Linked DNA regions of Homo sapiens. The protein of the gene in region 2 purifies or fractionates together with the protein of the main gene of each other region. This does not show direct contact. Each region holds a gene or a part of one and is shown on either strand. Other genes may lie near its edges.

What was found.
Region 1: the proteins of ECE2 (region 2) and RPS6KA2 purify together in Homo sapiens (affinity purification with mass spectrometry; 2 studies listed by BioGRID and IntAct, with this or other methods). This does not show direct contact.
Region 3: the proteins of ECE2 (region 2) and DHX40 purify together in Homo sapiens (affinity purification with mass spectrometry; 3 studies listed by BioGRID and IntAct, with this or other methods). This does not show direct contact.

What each region holds. Positions count from the first base shown.
Region 1 is NC_000006.12:166,498,252-166,505,251, forward strand, and holds part of RPS6KA2 (ribosomal protein S6 kinase alpha-2), read right to left. Parts: intron 6,362-7,000; coding exon 6,255-6,361; intron 2,674-6,254; coding exon 2,636-2,673; intron 400-2,635; coding exon 257-399; intron 1-256. UniProt on the Homo sapiens protein: Serine/threonine-protein kinase that acts downstream of ERK (MAPK1/ERK2 and MAPK3/ERK1) signaling and mediates mitogenic and stress-induced activation of transcription factors, regulates translation, and mediates cellular proliferation, survival, and differentiation.
Region 2 is NC_000003.12:184,285,978-184,293,076, reverse strand, and holds the end of ECE2 (endothelin-converting enzyme 2), read right to left. Parts: intron 5,241-7,099; coding exon 5,130-5,240; intron 3,641-5,129; coding exon 3,542-3,640; intron 3,437-3,541; coding exon 3,359-3,436; intron 2,823-3,358; coding exon 2,719-2,822; intron 2,521-2,718; coding exon 2,410-2,520; intron 2,285-2,409; coding exon 2,217-2,284; intron 2,038-2,216; coding exon 1,847-2,037; intron 1,734-1,846; coding exon 1,638-1,733; intron 1,016-1,637; coding exon 839-1,015; 3' UTR 46-838; downstream 1-45. Other genes in the region: EEF1AKMT4-ECE2 readthrough transcript protein, read right to left, coding at 839-1,015, 1,638-1,733, 1,847-2,037, 2,217-2,284, 2,410-2,520, 2,719-2,822, 3,359-3,436, 3,542-3,640 and 1 more. UniProt on the Homo sapiens protein: Converts big endothelin-1 to endothelin-1. Also involved in the processing of various neuroendocrine peptides, including neurotensin, angiotensin I, substance P, proenkephalin-derived peptides, and prodynorphin-derived peptides.
Region 3 is NC_000017.11:59,575,610-59,582,609, forward strand, and holds part of DHX40 (probable ATP-dependent RNA helicase DHX40), read left to right. Parts: intron 1-1,656; coding exon 1,657-1,756; intron 1,757-3,862; coding exon 3,863-3,949; intron 3,950-4,087; coding exon 4,088-4,270; intron 4,271-7,000. UniProt on the Homo sapiens protein: Probable ATP-dependent RNA helicase.

The DNA of each region.
Region 1 (7,000 bases), on a different chromosome or scaffold from region 2:
AGCATAAAGAGGGTTCGACTCCTCCCACGTCTGCGTTTCTGCGTTCTCGTTTGCATCCCAGCCCCACTTTCTGATGGTGGGGATGTGGGATGGGGAGGAGGCTGCCAGGAAATGCTTGGCCTGGACACTTGCCCAGTGTCCCAAGCCCTCAGGCACTGCCTTCTTCCGCATTTCGGGACCTCTGAACCAACCTGGGGACAGGGGTCCACGTGGGGAACAGCCGCCATGGCACAGAAGAGGGTCGGGGCAGGCTCACCATGAGCACGCCGAAGGACCACCAGTCGGCACTCTGCGTGTGTCCTCGCCGGTTCACCACCTCGGGCGCCATGTACTCGATCGTCCCGCAGAAGGAGTACGCTCTCTTGTCGTGGTCAATGGCCTCCTTACTCAGGCCGAAATCTACATGCAAACACAGCACACACACTGCCTCAGTCTCTGGGTGTGTTCGGGGGTCCACACTCAGGCGGGCATCAGCGTCCTTCTGTGGGCTCTGCCCCCTCTCCAGGTGGGCGCAGCAGAGCCCTGCTCAGCAAAAGCGGGACCATGTGAGTGCTTCCCGAAGCCCGTCAGTGCCCGAAGCCCGCCGGTGCCTGAAGCCGAAATCCTCAAAGCGTGAGGAGTTCCTTATGAGTGTACACACTCAGGAGCGCCTTGGAACACCACCCAGACAGCAGGTTGTCAGTCAGTGACGGGAACTCCCCCAGACCCTTTTCCACAGGCACGTGGAGGTGGGGTGTTGCAGGGCAGAGGGACCTGGGGTGGAAGGCAGGTGTGTGGCTGACAGCTACTGGGAAAGGGGCTCTGGCTGCCGGGGAGCCAAGGGGAAGGCAGAGTGTGGCGAACCTGCCCTGCCCCGACAACACGAGGGTGTGGAGAGCACAGACAGGCGGAGGAGGCCTGGGGAGCAGAGGCCGAGCTATGATGGAAGAACAGGGATCTCCAGGTGCCACAGAGCAAGGAGGGGCTTCTGAAGGAAGTGGCCCCGGGGCTGGAAAGAACAAGAGTGCATTGGCTCAGGGCCCCCAAGTCTTGGGGATGACAGAGCGTGGCTAAATAGAGCCAAGGCAGGCCCAGCCAGTGGGTAGAGCAGCAGTGCCCAGAGAGGCCATGTCCTTGCCCCTGAGCCTGGGAATGGGCCACCTTATGTGGCAGAAGGGACTGATATGGTTTAGCTGAGTCCCCATCCAAATCTCACCTTGAATTGTAAGAATCCCCACGTGTCGTGGGAGGGACAGAGTGGGAGGTAACTGAATCATGGGGGTGGGTTTTTCCAGTGCTATTCTCGTGACAGTGAATAAGACTCACGAGATCTGATGGTTTTATACAGGGCAGTTCTCCTGCACATGCTCTCTCTTTGCCTGCTGCCATGTAAGACGTGCTTTTTCTCCTCCTTCTCCTTCTGCCATGATTGTGAGGCCTCCCCAGCCAGGTGGAACAGGGTGAGTCCATTAAACCTCTTTCCTTTATGAATTACCCAGCCTTGGGTATGTCTTTATTAGCAGTGTGAGAATAGGCTAACATGGGGACTTTGAGAACAGACTAATACAGGGACTTTCAGAACAGACTAATACAGGGACTTTGAGAACAGACTAATACAGGGACTTTGAGAACAGACTAATACAGGGACTTTCAGAACAGACTAATACAGGGACTTTCAGAACAGACTAACACAGGGACTTTGCAGATGCCATTGAGGATCTGGAGATAGGGGATGACCCTGGATTTCTGGGTGTGCCCAACACCATTGCAAGGGTCTTCAGGTTAGGAAGGGAGGCAAGATGCAGTCAGAGAGCTTGGAAGATGCTGCCTGCTGGCTTCCACCATGGGGGACGCAGCCCAGCCAAGGACTGCGGGCAGCTTCTACTAGCTGGAAGAAGCTAAGCAAGGGAGTCTCCTCTAGAGGCCCCCAAAAGGCAGGCAGCCCTGCTGACACCTTGATTTCATTCCTGGGAGACTTATTTCACACTTGGGGCCTCCTGACCTGTCAGGTGATAAGTTTGTGTGGTTTAAAGCCCCGATGTTCCTGGCATTTTGTTGCAGATGCTATAGGGAACTAATACAAATGGGGTGTCCTGAGACTAGAGGAGCTGTTGCCAGTTTGACTGAATTTGCTGGTGGCTGCCAGGGCTCAGATGGAAACAGGGAGGGAAGTCACGTGGCCACCACCACGGTCCAGGGAGTGAGAAGGAGGCAGGGACAGCATCAGTGAGGGCAGCAGTGCAGGCCGCACTCCAGCGAGACTCCAGATGTCTGCCCTCAGGTTGGCACTGGGCATCTGCAAGGCCCACATTGCAGGCTACACTCCAGCAAGACTCCAGATGTCTGCACTAAGGTCAGCACTGGGCACTGGGACTCCTGAACTAAACACCCAGCGACGCTGAAGGAGCCCAGCAAACAGAACGTGGCAGGGGAGAGGGAAAAGAAGGGGCCACCGGGAAGCTGCATGGGTCTGGACGTTATGAAGACATACAATGCCATAAGCAGTCTGTAGCTATAGAAAATTCTGCCAAATCAGAGACAAGCATCTGGCAAAGGGAAGGGCGGTGTAAATAAGAGGGCTTGGGCTTTGAGGTGGTCCCCAAAGGTACCAGGGCTGAGATGAAGCCATGGAGGGGGCCTGCCGTCTTTTACAAACCTGTGATCTTAATGTGCCCCTCTTCATCCAGGAGGATGCTAAAAGAAAGGGAGAGAAAACAGATGCTTTAGAAAGAGACCCAGCCTGCCGACGGGCACGCAGAGCTCAGAGGAGAGCTGCGGGGCAGCTGGGGGCGGACGTTTTCAGGGAGCCCTGATGGAGCTGGCCCAGGAGATCCCCACGGCTTGTGCGGTGGGCCTTCCCATCCTGCCTCGCTTCTCCACAGCTCCCAGCTCGAGAAAGCATTTGGTGCCACACCTCCTGGATAAAGGGATGTGTGTTCGTGCAGCTGGAGGACTGCTGGCTTTAGATATTCGTGGGTCCCCAGGGAAGGTCTAAGAGCCCTCCAGACTGCTGTGCGCAAAGCATAGGTGGAGAGCGTCCTGGGACTGCTGTGGCCTGTGGAGACCCAGAGCCTCGCAGATGGAATGTTTCTGCACTCGGGATGCCCTTGATGTCCAAAGACCCCCTTCTTCTCCCATGTATCCTCCCCTGAGCCCTGCCCTGGCTCTCCAGACCCACCCAGGTGAGGCCTGCACAAGCGGGGGCCAAGGCATCGAGGAGCTTCGGGCTTCAGCAGGTACATCTTGTGATGAGACCTGCTCCCGGCTTGGCACCCCTGCGGGCCACTGGGTCCCTGTCTTGTTCCCTGCCAAGCCCTTGTCACGCCATGTGCCGGACGTGACAGTTGCCTTTGCTCCTCCCAGGTATCCTGCCGTGGGGTGAACCCTGCATAGAGAATGGAGGCAGGGTCCGTAAAGGGCTGGGTGCAGGCATAAATCCCTTCTTCCCTGAACATCAGGCGGGAGTCTGGGCTGTGATACCTTGACACACCTGTGGCCCTAAACTTTCCCCATTTATTTATTTGGCTGTAATTAAATCCTGTTCTTCCAGATGCTGGGAGGTACCAGCCTAGCCCTAAAGAGACCAGGAAGTGGGCTGGAAAGAAACAAAGGCAAGGCTTGGAGGATTAATCTGTGATACCTTTATAGAAACCTGTGAAAGGAAGGAAAGCCTGACTTGCTACAGCACAGAGGAGCCCGGAGGACATTATGCTCGATTAAATAAGCCCGTCCCCAAACGACAGGTATTATATGATTTTACAAATATAAAATGTATGGTCCCTAGAGGGGCCAGAGTCACAGAGATGGAAAGTGGATGGCGGGTGCCGGGGGCTGGGGAGCTACTGTGCAGGGGGACAGAGCTTTAGTTCTGCAAGATGAAACAGTTCTGGAGATGGACGGTGGGGATGGGGGCCCAGCAATGGGAACGTGCTTAATGCCACTGAACTGGGCACTTAAACGTGGTGAAAACTGTAAAAGTCATGTGTATTTTTCTACAATTAAAAAAAATCTGCCACAGAGTTAAAAAAATAACCACTATTTTCTGGAAATGGGAAGGAAAAGTTACAGCATGTAATTAAGATGACAATTTATAATGAACAAGGCAAATCTTTTCATCTTTGCCTTTTGGGCATATTCAATCTTTGCCCAGAATTAAGCACCTTTCAAGATTAATTCTCTAATAATTCTAGTTGAACAACACAACCTTTTCCTTCAAGCTTGCAATTAAATAAGGCTATTTTTAGCTGTAAGGATCACGCTGACCTTCAGGAGCAATGAGAACCGGCACTCCCGGCCTGAGTGGATGCACGGGGAGTGTGTCTAACACACAGGCGTCAACAGCCAGGGCCGCACGAGGAGGAGGAGTGGCAACGTCCACACAGACTCACAACACGGCACTCCGACTTGGAGGGTAATTAATACCAGGTTAACTTCTGGGATGACCTTGGCAACGACCCAAGGTGACAGGCCAGGCTCTGCAATCACCTCCCAATTAAGGAGAGGCGAAAGGGGACTCCCAGGGCTCAGAGCACCACGGGGTTCTAGGTCAGACCCACTTTGAAATGGAAATCTGGCCTTGTGCTGCTGCTCTTGTGGGGAGACAGCAGCTGCGGAGGCTGCTCTCTTCATGGGATTACTCTGGATAAAGTCTTTTTTGATTCTACGTTGAGCATCCCTTATCTGAAATGCCTGAAACCGGAAGTGTTTAGGATTTGGGGATTTTGCAATATTTACTTATATATAATGAGATATCTTGGAGATGGGCCACAAGTCTGAAATGAAACAAAATTCATTTATGTTTCATATATACCTTCTACACATCACCTGGAGCTAATTTATAGAATATTTTAAATAATTTTGTGTATGAAACCACGTTTGTGTTAAGTGCTTATGTGTGGAATTTTCCACTGGGGGGTGTCCCATTGGGGCTCAAAAAGTTTTGGATTTTGGAGCATTTCAGATTCGGATGAGGGATGCTCCAGCTGTATTTACACACGTATTCAACTCACATGTGTGCCTGTGGCGTTCCACGGACTGGTGGTGAAGTCAGATCATCAAGCACATGGGCAAATGCATTTTGCATCCTGCAGTGGATATGGGATGTGACCTGGTTTCTGGGTAAACCCAGCTGTTTCCCATAGATGACAGCTGCATCTAACAACACCAGCTTCGGAGCAGGGCTTGTCTTTTCTCAGTTCCATGCAGGTGACAGGGCAGGAATGTGGAGTAGCAACTGGGACGCGTTTGCAGACCCCAGGGCCCCCCCTTGGTCTTAGCTCACAGGCACGGGGCTCTCTGGTGGTACCCAAGGCCGGTCGGTCCCACCAGGCCACAGGTGATGCCTCATCTAGGGGCGGCTATGGGCCCTGGTCTGGGTGGGTGGCATTAATCGGCCCCTCAGGGCAGGGAAGAGTGAGTGATCACCTCAGGGATACTGCTGAGGTCAACTCAACCTAAAATACCATCCTCCAAATCTCTTCTTTTCTAAGTGGATCACTCCTAGTTATGTGTCAGGTCTACAAAGAATATGTAAAAACAACAACAACAAAATGAAAATGGGAACACTATTATTTTGGAGGGACTTTACTGTTCAAAAATCTAGAATAGATTAGCAAAATATCGTAGAAATAATAGCCTCACAGGTCACCACTGCCAAGGATATACAAATCTCAGTGGACTCTGGGTCTGAGAATTCTGGGGCCGTTGTCTTTTAGGTAAGTTCTTGGGAGAGCTGTTCTGACTGGGGACCTAGAGGTGGGGCTGACAAGTAACTGAGTAGAGGTTCATTGACCACATTCCTGGGACTTGCTGAAGTAGATGAAAGGGCTTCCTGAATCTGGAGGACAGTAGGGAAGAGATGAGAGAGGAGGAGAAACTGCCCTGGAGGCAGCCATGTTTGAGATGGTCCCCAGTGGCCAGATGAGCCTCACCCAGGAGAGAGGGCGGGAATGTGGGTCAGGGTCGTGGGCGTGCCCCTCCCCAGCTCCGGCTTCCCGTGCATCACAGACATGCACCTGAGCCTGGCCTCCCTCAGGCGTTATGAGTGTCAGGTGAGAATGGGCCTGGGCATTTCCTATGCAAATCAGCAAGGCCACACCTGCATCTGGGCACCTGATGCCTGAGCCGGTCCTGCCGGCACAAGAGTCTCCCCAGCCTGCTCTCTGATATGTCCTCATTTAGGAAATAAATATCTAGCAGTGGCTACCAACATGGGCCAGGAAAATACATGGAGCTGATGGGCGTGGGGAAGTCAGCCCTAGTTTTTTCTCACTTACTTCTCAGGCTTCAGATCTCTGTAGATGATCCCCAGGCTGTGGAGATGGTCTAAAGCCAAGGCCAGCTCAGCCAGGTAGAACTTGACATCCTCCTCCGTGAACATGACCTAGTAAGAAAAAAACAAAAACAAAAACAAAAAACGTTTAACTTGTTTTATGGCTGGTGTGTTTTAAAGAACTCTGCCAGAGAGACTGAGAGTCCACACTGGGGTCAGTTTGCTCTGTGGAACGCTATGGCCCCCCAGAGTGGTCTTCTGACTCTTCTCATGGAAAAGTGAGTTCCCTCTGCAGTTCCAAGATCAGTGGATGGAGACGAGGGCTTCCTGCACAGGTGACTCATGCCGCCTTGAGAGTGGGGTGCTGAGATTCAGCCTCTCCTCTCTGTGTCCTTCTCACCCCTGCAAATCATTTGGCTCTGGAGTAGGTTTCTGGGTTTACATTCTAGCATGAGTGCTGCTCATGTGAATTCATAACAAATGTAATACAAGTAAGACGCTGAGGGCTTGATGAGGTGACTGAAAATGGGGCTCAAATATCATTCTTTCCCCATGGATTATCTATCTCCACTCCTTGGGTTGATGCAAACTAGTAGCCTACGTAACCTGCTGTCAACCCAAAGTGGGATTAGTTCTACCAAAGATCACCCACAGGTGGTACAGAGTTGGCTATGGGTGCCCCAAGCTGAGGGGGCGGGATGGGGAGGGGTTTCCAGGTGTTGGGGTTGGCAGCCACATTCCGGGATCCCA
Region 2 (7,099 bases):
AGTGAATGGATACATGAAAACAGGACTGAAGGAAGAGAGACAGGCTGACGGATGCATGTCTGTTTATTGGCACAGGGTCCTATAAGGGCCAAGACCACACCCTCCCACCCTCTTTTCTGTAAAAATAAACTCTGTTCTTCCTTTTCCCTGCTCTATCTGCTTTCCTGCTTTGTCCAGGGAGAATCAATCATTTGCTAAGGCTTGTGCCCTAAGACACAGGAACCAGTACCCGCTACACATATGCACTTCCCCTCTCAGCCCAGGGAAACAGTGGGCAGCAGGAGGCTTTCAGAGGCCCTTGGGCTTCCACTAGGAGCTGTCAGTGAAGGTCAGCAGCAGCACTGGGAGCAGTGGCACAAGGAGCACAGGGTGAGGTGGGGGTAGCCCGTGAGGGTGAGCCAGACAGAGCTGAGTCCACCCCTAAGTGCGCACTGAGTGAGCCTGGGGAGAAGTCCAGGAGGTACACCACCCAGGCCTGTGGGTCACAGTGGGGCAGGCACGGCAGGCCCCATGGCCGCCAGGCTGAGTGAGCCTGGGGACAGAAGAGGCAGACTCCTTCCTATGGGAACTGGCCTCCCCACCCAGACCTCTTCCAGGCAGGGTGACACGGAAAGATGTCACAGTGAATGGTGGGGGCTCTGCTGGAGGCAGGGGCACCCCCAAAGCAGAGGCACAATGTGGTGATTGAGGAGGGTCTGTACTCATGTCACCTGTGGGGGGGAGGGACTAGACCCAGCCCAGCTTGCATTTGCTTCCTCCCAACCCAAGAGCAAACAGCTTTGTCAGGAGAGCTGCCCCAGGTCTGGTGACAGCTGGCCATTTCTCCCCTGATCCAGGTCTACCACACCTCACACAGCTGCCCTGGGTTCATGGGGGAGCCGACAGGGCAGCCGAAGTGCCGCAGGAAGTCACGGGAGTTGGAGAGAGTGCCCAGCACGCGGAAGCGGGCAGGGCTGTGGGGGTCGGTCACCAGCCCCTCGTGAGAGCTCTCTGGTGTGCGGACCGAGCACCACACCTGCGGGCCAGGACAGACATGGGGGCATATGGTGTCTAGTGTGGAGCCGGGCCTTAGAGTCAGCTACAGCCATCCCAGGGGCACAAACCACCACCGCTGCAGCCCCTCCCAAGTTCCTTCCAAAACTGCCCTGGACATCGGGTTGCCCAGCATGGACATGACGAGGGGAAAAAGCGGAGCCCCAGAAGCTGCCTGCTGTGGCTGCCCAGCGGAGGCTCTGCCTGGGTCCTTGCTCTGCCACTTACTCTATTCCTGGGCAGCCCTGGACAGGCCACTCTGCGTCCCGAGCTTTCGTTTCCTGCATGTCTCCCTCACAGGAACAGCGTGAGGATGAACGTTTGCCCCCTTCGCCACCCTGTGCCCCGCAAGCACGACAACCTTGCCCTTTGAACTATGCGAAATCCTACCAAGGCATTCTCCCGCTCAGGCCTCTTCAGGCTGCCTTTGTGGGCCCTGGCTGGCCGGAGGCTCTGGGCATGGGCCTTCCCAGCCCACCTTTCATGCCCCAGCCTCAGCCCCATTCACCAGCCCGTTTGACACGTGCCCCAGAGTTCTCCTAATGACATACTCAGGAGGGAGCAGGACAAAGGGGCAGACCCCAGGCCTTCCGAGAGGGTGATACCTGGGCAAATCCCACGAAGAAGAGCTGGTGGTTGGTGAGCCCCACGGCTGGCAGTTGCTGCTCCTCCCCATGCTTTCTCAGCCATGCTTTGTAAGCCTGGGGACAGAACAGTGGGCAACAAGCCCATCCAGGCCTGCCCCCACCCACCCGGCACCTTTCACCCCAGGCCAGCAGGCCTCAGCCGCTGGAGGGCTGGTCAGGCCACTCACATTGTAGGCAGCCTTCAGCCCCCCGTTGTCAGCAATGTTCTCCCCCAGCGTCTGGCGGCCGTTGAGCCTCTCCCCATTGACCTGGTATTGATTGTACTGTTCCTCCATGCAGGCCGTGTGGTTCCGGAAGGCTGCCAGGGACTCATTCTGCCACCAGGGCCGCAGGTTCCCTTCTTTGTCATACTCGCGCCCTGAGGAGAACTCACCTTTGCACCCCACCAAAACCAGAGCTCGTCTCTTGGGGGCAGCAGTGCCCCCACCAGCCCTGGTCCACAGACTTCAGGGCCCTTGGGGCTACATCAATGTCCCAAGGCCTTGCAGGAGCCACTGGGAATTCTAGGCTAGAGGGGACGACTCCATGGGCCCCTACCTTGGTCATCAAAGGCATGCGTCAACTCATGGCCCATGACCACACCGATGCCACCGAAGTTCAGGGCCCTGGTGGGTGAGGAATAGCAAGTGAGGACATGGCGGGGGTACTTCTGAATCCCACCTCCAGCCCTGCTCCCAGCTCAACCACAGGCCCAGGCCCCAGCACCCAGCCCCTCCTGCTTCAGACACACTTGGGGTGGTTGCGGGCATAGAAGGGGGCCTGCAGGATGCCAGCGGGGAAGACGATCTCATTCTTAGTTGGAAGGTAGTAGGCATTCACTGTCTGGGGGGTCATGCTCCACCTGGCGGAGGAAGAGTGAGGGGCTGAGGCTCCCGACTCTCCTGACACTGCTCCCCTCCCAACAGCCCTGCCCTACCTCCTGCAAGGGTATGGGGCCGCCGGTCTGGGACCAGTCTTGCCACCCTTTTCCCCCATCCCAGGAACCTTCCCCCACCTCTCCTGCCACCCCTAGTGTCTATGTCCACCCCGTCATTCTCACTGGTCTCGGCTGGGAGGCTTGCGGAGCTGGTCAGCCATAACCTTGGCAGAGAAGTTGTACAAATTCAACATGTTTTGGAAGAAAGAATCTTCAGAAATTTCGTACTGTGGGAAAGGTGGGAAGTAGAAAGAGAGCAAGAGAATCCATTGGAGAAGATAATAGCGCCAGTTTGGCTACTCATTAGTATCTCTCCAAACCTCAGTTTCCTCAACTGTAAAATATCTAGTAAACCATAATTGGCAATATTTAAAGGCCATTTATGTTATGGGTGCTGTTTTTTTACATACTGTATTCATTTATCTCACAACAACCCTATGAGGAAGGCACTAGTAGGACCCCCATTTTACAGAAAATGAAACCAAGGCCTAGAGAGATTTTGTTAAGGTTACAAAGTTAGAGGTAGAAACAGAATTTGATTAGGCTTGACTCCAAATCTTGGCTCGTTAGCACTATATTTCACTGCTGTTTGGCCTGCAGCCTGTCACAGAGCCAACATTTTAACAATGCTGGTTACCTCCATCTGCCTCTAAAAGAAACCGACAAGCACCTCTTTCCCAGTGCTTGAGCCCCAATTTCTAAGCCCAGGGAACAGTGCCCTCTACAGGGCTGAAGTTCAGTACTGATGAGCGTAGGTACTCACCCCGTCATAAACATCATCCAGCTCTTTGGGCTCCAGGATAAAGTCTGGGAAACCAATCATATCATAGATGGCATCTGCCTGAAGAGACCAGGTTAAGGGTTTGTTTCCTTCCCCAGGTTCCTAGCAAAACTGTATCCTTGAACCCCACCTCAAGATGGCGCCCCAACCCTAGCCACCGCTCACTTTCTCCTTGGCTGCCTGGCGGGTCTTCTCATCCATCCAAACCAGCTGTCCCAGGGCCTCCTCAAATGCGGTCCGGATTTCGCTGATCATCCCCTCTGCCTGGGAGGGAGGAGGTAAAGTCAGCCTTCCCCTGCACTGAATGCATCCCTGCCCCACCCATCCACCCTTGGTGCCCCATCCCTGTCCACCCAGGGGAAATGGGAACGTCTAGACTAAAGAAATACGGCTGAGCACCTGGAGACGATGAGAAGGAAACACCATTTGTAAAGGTACTGGGATTGTGGCTGGCTTTTTTCTTAATTAAGTACACATTTTAATTGACAATAAGTTCATCAAATTATATTATAATTTAATATAGTGCAATGATTTTTTTTTTTTTTTGAGACAGAGTCTGGCTGTGTTACCTAGGATGGAGTGCAGTGGCGCAATCTCGGCTCACTGCAACCTCCGCCTCCCGAGTTCAAGCGATTCTCCTGCCTCAGCCTCCCAAGTAGCTAGGATTACAGGCTCCCGCCATCATGCCCGGGTAATTTTTGTATTTTTAGTAGAGCTGGGGTTTCACCATCTTGGCCAGGTTGGTCTTGAACTCCTGACCACGTGATCCACCCGCCTCAGCCTCCCAAAGTGCTGGGATTACAAGCGTGAACCACCACGCCCAGCCTAGTGCAATGATTTTTATCTGATTATGAAAAGAGGACATTCACAGAAAATTTGGAAAATTGAGAATTGAAGAACAGACCAGTTATAAAGCACTCATTCATAGATAAGTTCTTTTAACATTTTGATTACCCACTTCTAGAGTTTTTCCCTCCCCTGATATGCATATAAAATATGGAATTATGTTGTATAGGGTATATATTTTTTGTAACCTACTTTTTTTGCTGAAAGATATATCAGCCATTTAAGGATCCTCACAACCCATCCTAACCACAATTTATTTTTCCTTTACCCTATAGTTGGACATTTAACCTGTTCTCATTTTCTGCTATTATAAACAACATTGCCATAAAAACCATAAACATCCTTACAGGTAATACTTTAAGCACATCCATTATCATATCCTAATAAATAAATATTTCTTCTAGTTATATAGTTAAACATAAACACATAGACAACTTTAAAGGACTCTTATAATCCCACTGCCCAAAGCAGCACTACTTCATTTGTTCATCAATTTACATCCAGTTGTTTTTCTTTTCTTTTCTTTTTTTTTTTTTTTTTTTTTTGAGACAGAGTTTTGCTCTGTCGCCCAGGCTGGAGTGCACTGGCGCGATCTCGGCTCACTGCAACCTCCGCCTCCTGGGTTCAAGTGATTCTCCTGCCTCAGCCTCCCAAGTAGCTGGGATTACAGACACCCGCCACCACGCCCGGCTAATTTTTTGTATTTTTAGTAGAGACCAGGTTTCACCATGTTGGCCAGGCTGGTCTCGAACTCCTGACCCCATGATTCACCCGCCTTGGCCTCCCAAAGTGCTGGGATTACCGGCGTGAGCCACCGCGCCTGGCTCCCGTTGTTTTTCTATATGTCTGCACATACATGAACAGTCAATTTTGAGGGCATAGTGTTGAAAGAATCTTGTAGACTCACAATTTCTTTGCTTTGCCGGTCAAACGTGGCCTTCACGAAGAGGGACCCCAAAGCAAAGCCAAGGGCGTCATCCGTGTTGGAGATGCAGGTCTGCCACCTCGGCACACAGGACTGTTAAAGGACAAAGAGCCAGGACCCTAGAGATGGCTGTGTCCTCCAGTCAGAGGGCCTTTCTCTGTCACTGGGGCTAGCAGCCCTTCTCAGCTCTGGACAAGAGTCCTGGGTTTGCTCAGTGCCACATCTGTCTTTTTTTGAGACAGGGTCTTGCTCTGTCACCCAGGCTGGAGTATAGTGGTGCAATCACTGCTCACTGCAACCTCTGTCCCCTGGGCTCAAGCGATCCTCCCACCTCAGCCTCTCGAATAGCTGGGACCCCAGGCACATGCCACCACACCCAGCTATTTTCTTTTGTAATTTTAGTACAGAAGGGGTCTCACCATGTTTCCCAGGCTGGTCTTGAACTCCTGAGCTCAAGTGATCTGCCCGCTTTGGCCTCCCAAAGTGCTGGGATTAAAGGCATGAGCCACCGTGCCCGGCCCACAACTAATTTTATATCCAGTCAGTCCCCCATGCAAGAAACCTGGGAGTCACTCAGCTTCCTCCATCTCCCTAACCCCCCACATTCAGTCTATCAGCAGTTTCTACTACTTTGACTTCTTTTTTTTTTTTTTTGAGATGGAGTCTCACTCTGTCACCCAGACTGGAGTGCAGTGGTGCGATCTCAGCTCACTGCAAGCTCCACCTCCCGGGTTCACGCCATTCTCCTGCCTCAGCCTCCCGAGTAGCTGAGACTAAAGGCGCCCGCCACCACGCCCGGCTAAATTTTTTGTCTTTTCAGTAGAGACGGGGTTTCACCGTGTTAGCCAGGATGGTCTTGAACTCCTTACTTCAAGTGATCCGCCCACCTTGACCTCCCAAAGTGCTGGGATTACAGGCATGAGCTACGGCGCCCTGCCTGCTTTGATTTCTTAATCATCTTTCCCATCCACTCAAGTGGACGGGGAAAATGATTACCACTTCCCTGACCTATAACACTATCATCTTGAACTCCTGAGCTCAAGCACTCCACCCACCTCAGCCTCCCAAAATGCTGATTACAGGCACGAGCCACCACACTCAGTCTGCAATTGCCTTTTTTTTTTTTTTTTTTTAAACAGAGTTTTGCTCTTGTAGCCCAGGCTGGAGTGCAATGACGCAGTCTCAGGTCACTGCAACCTCCAGGTTTAAGTGATTCTCCTGCTTCAGCCTCCCGAGTAGCTGGGATTACAGTTGCTTGCCACCACGCCCAGCTAATTTTTTGTATTTTTAGTAGAGATGGGGTTTTACCGTGTTGGCAAGGCTGGTCTTGAACTCCTGACCTCAGGTGATCCACCTGCCTTGGCTTCCCAAAATGCTGGGATTACAGGCATGAGCCACCAAGCCTGGCCTGCAATTGCCTCTTAACTGGACACCCTGACTCCATTCTCATCCCCGCTTCCCTGCTGCTCCCCTCCATCTTCCATTTAGCCACCAGAAATATCATTTCATACATAACCCAACTGTGTTTCTCCTCTCCATGCTACTCCCATGGAGCCCCATCTGTGAAAGAATCAAGGCCGGACTTCCCAATACAATATTCAGATCCCTTCCCAAGTGCCCCATGCCCACCTTACCAAACCCCGTCTCTCAGTTGCCCTCTTCTCAAGCTCATGCCAGAACGTGTGTAAAGCCACCATGCTCCTTTTGGCCTCTAGGAATTTGCACATGCCGTTCCTTGTCCCTGGAATGCCCTTCTCCCCGGCTTTCTTGGTGAACTTTTCCATCACATGGCACCTCTCAGAGAAGGCTTCTCTGATGCCCTTCCCCACCATCCCCCCAGGTGAAATGTGCTGTCCCACCTCTGTCCTATAGCAGAAAAGTCTTTCACTCAGTGTGAGCAGTTATCACCACAAAATATAATGTATTTGTTTACATGTCCACTCCCCCCACTT
Region 3 (7,000 bases), on a different chromosome or scaffold from region 2:
GATCATGAAACAAATCAGTGAGAACCAGCATTCCTTGACAGTAGTGATTTTTGCCTGAAGTCTTTTTACATTCACTTTTTTGAGAGTCGTGGATATCCCCCTTATTATCGTTTAGAGTATTGTTTCTCCCAGCAAAACAAAACTATTGGTGAGAATTCTTTGAAATGAGGACAGTAGTTTCTTGCTGGTATTACTGTAAGTCAAAACCTAATTTGCCATTGCCACAGAATTTTTAGAAATTGTGTATATCCAGCTATATCTAAGTCTAAACACAGTGGATTGTTTTGTTTTTTTTTTGTGATGGAGTCTCGTTCTTGTCATCCAGGCTGGAGTGCAGTGGCGCAATCTCAGCCCACTGCAACCGCCACCTCCTGGGTTCAAGCGATTCTCCTTCCTCAGCCTCCCAAGTAGCTGGGATTGCAGGCGCTCGCCACCACACCTGGCTAAGTTTTGTATTTTTTTTTTTTTTTTTTTAGCAGAGATGGGATTTTGCCATGTTGGCCAGGCTGGTTTCAAACTCCTGACCTCAGGTCATCTGCCTGCCTTGGCCTCCAGAATTGCTGGGATTACAGATGTGAGCCACCATGCCTGGCTGTGGATCATTTTCCTTTTAAAGTAGCCATGCCTTAGTCTGCTTTTCAAGAATGATCCTGTTCTTTGGTGAATTCCAAGAGCAAATGCAAACTCTTGATTTGACATTTTGGTTATAGTAAATATTGTTGAATGAGGTTTAGAATTTGTTTTATAAAACTTTTATTATGGAATTTAACTTGTAAAGTTAAAGGGAAATTAACCTTAGCCTCCTATTTGGAGTTGGAATTAGCATTTGAATGTTTTTATATTTTACATGTATGCGTATTAACAGCTTTTGTTGATTGGGTGATTCTTATCCCTATATTAACAAAGTTTTGGAATATATGTGTCAGTAAAGAACATAGATGTGCTATTTTGGAAATCTTTTTTATGATGATATTAGCTTCTTACTCTCTATTGAAGCATAGATATCTATTTTAGATTTTGTCATCTTCAGGGAAATTCTTAGGATCATTGTTTAAGGTTCTCATTGTTTTCTCAAGATTTGGTTCACCGATGCTTTTATAATTTACATTGAAACTGATAAAAACCCATTATGTTTGGTTTGTTATTAATCATTAACTAAATATGTACATAGACATATATTATTCTATACAGAGTAAATAATTTCATTCTTTTTTACTGCTACATTGAAAATAATGTTCTGGATTTTCTCTTGCCTCTGTTTTTTTTTTTTTGTTTTTTGAGATGGAGTCTCGCTCTGTCGCCCAGGCTGGAGTGCAGTGGCGCGATCTTGGCTCACTGCAACCTCTGCCTCCCAGATTCAAGCAATTCTCCTGCCTCAGCCTCCCGAGTAGCTGGGACTACAGGGGCGCGCCCCCACGCCCTGCTAATTTTTTGTATTTTTCTTAGAGACAGGGTCTCACCATGTTAGCCAGGATGGTCTCGATATCCTGACCTTGTGATCCTCCCGCCTCAGCCTCCCAAAGTGCTGGGATTACAGGCGTGAGTCACCACGCCCGGCCTAGAAACATGACTTGTAATGAAAAATTAAGTTCTTCAAAACTCGAGTTTGACACATGCATGTTGTAAATTGGTATTTTCTTTTTATATATACTTCAGATCAACAGAGGAGGATATTTTTGCCACCACCACCTGGAATTAGAAAATGTGTCATATCCACCAATATTTCTGCAACGTCTTTGACAATAGATGGAATCAGGTAAAACTTTTGAACTTTCTCTTAAAGTCAAGGAAGCCTATCGTTACTAAACATTAGCTAAACATTACTGAGTTTGCTTTTCTGTGCCCTCCACTAATTCCCTTCTCTCCTACTTTTTGATGTTCTTAACATGTAATCACCTATTTTGTTTTGTAATTATTGATTGCTTTGAGCAGGAAATGGAGTAGGAGGTACATACTATATTCCTATTCACACTTTTTGTTTTTTTAGAGACAGGGTCTCATTATGTTGCTGAGGCTGGAATATAGTGACTATTCACAGGCGTGCAGTCATAGCACACTACAGCCTTGTATGGAGATCAGCCAATCCTCCCGCCTCAGTCTCCTGGGTAGCTGGGACCACAGGCATGTGTCACCGTACTTGGCTGTTCACACTTTTTAACTACTTGGCAACTTGAAGCTTCTTTTCAAATTTAAGATTATGTATAATGCTTTATGGGTTTCACTAAATAGGAAGCCAAACCTATTTTTCTGTACTCCCATTATAAGCATATACCTTAGATGATTTGATATTTCCTTCTACCTTGCAGCCTCACTCGGTAGAGTTAGTTTGTATATCCAGTGTTTATCTGGATGTATTGTCTCTGACTTTTTACCTTTTTGTGAAAATTAACTATGATTCAGGTCCCTTATCTTTTCTGGATGTAGTAAATAGTGCTATCAAATTTTTGGGTAAATTTAGTAAGGAAACACTAAGAAATTTTAAGTCTGGACTGACAACTAATGCAAAGTTCTTTAAGACTGGGTTATTTATCATTTACCGAATATATTTTATTTCTTTAGCTAAGTCTGATTGTCTGTCTCCGGAAGGCTGAACCTGAATCTCAAAGATCCTGTGTGTTTCTTCTGGGTAAAATGATCACCCAGGTCTGAGAGGAAGTCTAATTTCCTCTGCTTTTCTTCGTTACTTTAAAAATAATGGTTTCACTAAGGGATTAAGGGAGTGCTCTCCTGGGTAAATTAACCTCTGTAATTTTCTGTTTCCTGCACAGGCAAAAGCCATTAAATAGCATGTTTCAGAATGTTGTCTTGTTACTGCTATCCTACTTTGGTTCCTTACCTGACTTGTTCACCATTTAATTGGCTTAGAATGGCATGTTAAGGGCTAGTTGAAATTAGATTCTGAATCTGTTTAAATGGTCTGAAGCTGACTTTCAAGTTTGTGTATTTTTGTATTGAGGCAAAATTCACATAAAATTAATCATTTAAAATGAAAAATTAAGTAGTACTTAGTACATTTACAGTATTGCGCAACCACTGCTTCTGCTTAGTTCTAAAATATTTCAACACCTCAAAATAAAACCCCATACCCATTAAGCAGGTACTCCACATTCCCCTCTTGACCCCAGCCCTTGGCAACTACCAGTCTTACTTTTTGTTTGTACGTATTTTCTTTTTTAAAAAATTCTTTAGATGTGTCAGCAGGAAGCAGTAGGTATTTTCTATTCTGGATATTTCATACAAATAGAATCATATAATATGTGGCCTTCTGTGTTTGCTTTCTTTCACTTAGCATAATATTTTTGAGGTTCGTCCACATTGTAGCATGTATCAGTACTTCATTCTTTTTTGTGGCTGAATAATATTGCATAGTGTGTGTGTGTATATATATATATATATATTCCATTGTGTGTGTATATATGCGTGTGTATATATACTACATACATATATGCAAAGCAATTTGTTCATCCCTTCTTCCATTAATGGTTAATGGACATTTAGGTTGTTTTTACCTTATGGCTGTGATTCATAGTGCTGATATGAACATTGGTCTATAAGTATTTGTTTGAGTACTTGTTCTCAGTTCTTTTTGGTGTACACTTAGAAATGGAATTGCTGGATCATATGGTAATTTTGTGTTTAACTTCTTGAGGACCTCCGAACAATTTTCCACCTCGGCTGAACCATTTTACATTCCCACCAACAACATACGAGGGTTCCAATTTCTTGACTTTCAAGTTTTACACTTAACATAAAAGGCATTGTGTACCTGCTAGTTTGCTAGAAAAGGAGAAACCAAAGTGGTTAACAATTAACAAGTCTTCTTTTATTTTCCAGAAACTTAACTTGCTTTGATTCTTCTTAGATATGTGGTAGATGGTGGCTTCGTGAAGCAGTTAAATCACAACCCCAGATTAGGGTTGGACATCCTGGAGGTGGTTCCAATTTCAAAGTAAGTCTCTATGTCAAATCTTTTTATTCAAAGAACAACTGATTAGGTAATTTCTAGCTGTTTTGGGGAGACAAAGTAAATTACCTGAGAAACCCACAGAACATTTTGGGGAATTTTTGGGTTTTTTTCCTTTTGTAGGAGCGAGGCATTACAGCGAAGTGGCCGAGCTGGCAGGACTTCTTCAGGAAAATGCTTTCGGATCTATAGTAAAGATTTTTGGAACCAGTGTATGCCTGACCATGTGATCCCTGAAATTAAGAGAACTAGTTTGACATCTGTAGTTCTGACCTTAAAGTGCCTTGCCATACACGATGTCATAAGGTATGTAGACAACTAGAAAAAAAAGGAAAAACTTGTTAGCCTGGAACCAAGTTATTGGCTCAAAAATTATTTTGAAATATTTGACTGATACATCCCTGAGAGTTGAGGCTAACCTCTTTTACAGGTTGGTTTTTATATTGGTTGCTTTTCTTTTCTTTTTTTTTTTTTTTTTTTTTTTTTGAGATGGAGTCTTGTTCCGTTGCCCAGGCTGGAGAGCAGTGGCACGATCACGGCTCACTGCAACCTCCGCCTCCCGGGTTCAAGCAATTCTCCTGTCTCAGCCTCCCGAGTAGCTGGGACTACAGGTACCTGCCACCATGCCCAGCTAATTTTTGTATTTTTAGTAGAGATGGAGTTTCACCTTGTTGGTCAGGCTGGTCTCGAACTCCTGACCTCAGGCGATCCACCCACCTCGGCCTCCCAAAATGCTGGGATTACAGGTGTGAGCCACTGTGCCTGGCTCTATTGGTTGCTTTTCAACTAAACTAACACAGAAGACTTCCTTGCATTGCTTTAGTAGGATCTCTTGCTCATGTTTAACCTTGGCTTAATGGCGGGGTTAGGGGGTTGTGCTGATGTTTATGTGGATCACTTAGTGACCACTGTTTATTTGTAATGAAAGGTATATAATGAGCTGGGCATAACAGCTTATGCCTGTAATCTCAGCACTTTGGATGGCCAAGGTGGGAGGGTTGCTTGAGCCTAGGATTTCGAGACAAGCCTGGGCAACATAGTGAGACCTTGTCTCTACAATTAAAAAAAAAAAAAAGTCTGATATGGTGCATGCTTGAGTCCCAGATATTTGGAGGCTGAGACGGGAAGATTGCTGGAGCCGGGCAGGTAGAGGCTGCAGTGAGCCATGATTGCACCACTGCGGTCCAGCCTGGGCAACAGAGTGAGACCCTGTTTCAAAAGAAGGGGGCTGGGCGTGGTGGCTCACGTCTGTAATCCTAGCACTTTGGGAGGCCAAAGTGGGCGGATCCCTTGAGGCCAGGAGTTTGAGACCCGCCTGGCCATCCTGGCAAAACCCCGTAGCTACTGAAAATATAAAAATTAGCTGAGCTTGGTGGCACGTGATTGTAGTCCCAGCTACTCCGGAGGCTGAAGCACGAGAATCACTTGAACCCAGGAGGCAGAGACTGCAACGTGCCAAGATCACACCACTGCACTCCAGCCTGGTCAACAGAGCGAGATTCTGTCTCAAAAAAAACAAAACAAAACAAAAGGGTATACAGTTGGAAAGTGGAGTGTTTTTTTTGTATGGCCAGCATCATACTATATACCATGAAAGACAGAGTAATACTCTGTAGTTTTTTGCTTTCACTAAGCTTAAGTTATATTAGGAAAACAAGGTTCAGACACGTGAAATAAAGGAAGAACAGTTAAATTAGCCAAATATTAATATAATTTATTGGTATAAGATAGAATATTGTTATAGATAGAAATTTCTATCATACATGGTAGGGGAATTAATGGAGGAAAGTACTATCTTCTTTATTTTGGTCTTAATTGCCTTGGAATGTAAAACTGCTCAGGAATTTTGGGGGATGGTAACCGTGCAGTTTTTAAATTCATAGTAAGTGATTATTAGGTGCATCCAAATATGTATTGTAGGCCGGGTGCGGTGGCTCACGCCTGTAATCCCAGCACTTTGGGAGGCCGAGACGGGTGGATCACCTGAGGTCAACCTGGCCAACATGGTGTAACCCTGTCTCTATTAAAAATACAAAATTAGCCAGGATGGTGGTGCTCGTCTGTGATCCCAGCTACTTGAAAGCCTGAGGCAGGAGAATTACTTGAACCCGGGAGGCAGAGGTTGCAGTGAGCCGAGATTGCGCCATCGCACTCCAGCCTGGGCAACAAGAGCGAAACTCTGTCTCCAAAAAAAAAAAAAAACCAAAAAAAGCAAAAAAAAACCCCAAAACCCACAAATACTCATTGTATACTCTTGGAAAGCCAATTTGCCAATTTCAAAATGTTTTGATAGTTATCATTAGATTAGAGATTTTCTGAATGAGAATATGTAGATACTGGAAAGAGAAAAGCATGTAATAAATGAAATTCTGACTGTAGCAATAAATTATACCAATGAAAAGAAGGAAAGCGCCATTTAAAGAAATCCAAAGAGCCCAATAGAAAACTTTCAGATGAACCCAGATATTAAAATAATGTCTTGATTTTTTTCATTTGGGGAAAAAGGGCCATTTTTGGAAATAGCTGCTCAGTAAGTTTGACATTGACTCTTAGTATATTCACAAAGGATAGCAGAGCAGCCTCTAACCAAGAATGAGTATATATTAGAAAAATAGGAACAATAATTAATATCATCTGCATTGAATTATTTTTCCATCTTAAGTCTTAAAAGCCATAGTGTACTAAAAATCGCAAAATTATGTTTCAAAATGCTTGAAACAAAAAACAAAGACTTCCTTTTTAAAAAGTTGTATAAAGAATAAGGAGAGGTAGAGCCAGTGTTTGGGGTAGATGGTATAGGATTCATAGACGACAGAAAGAAAATGGATCTTCTCAATTATTATTTTGCTTTCCCTTTCTTTTCCATCAGGAAGAATAATTTTAAAGCTGAAAATGCAAGAACAGGTCTGAATAAGAAGGAATTGATGACTAAGGTGGAAGGAAATAATGAGGGAAAACCTACCACCATAAGTGATTTTGTCTTGAGCATTTAGACATTATTTCCGTGGTGTTAAAAGAACTTGCAGATTTAGCGTC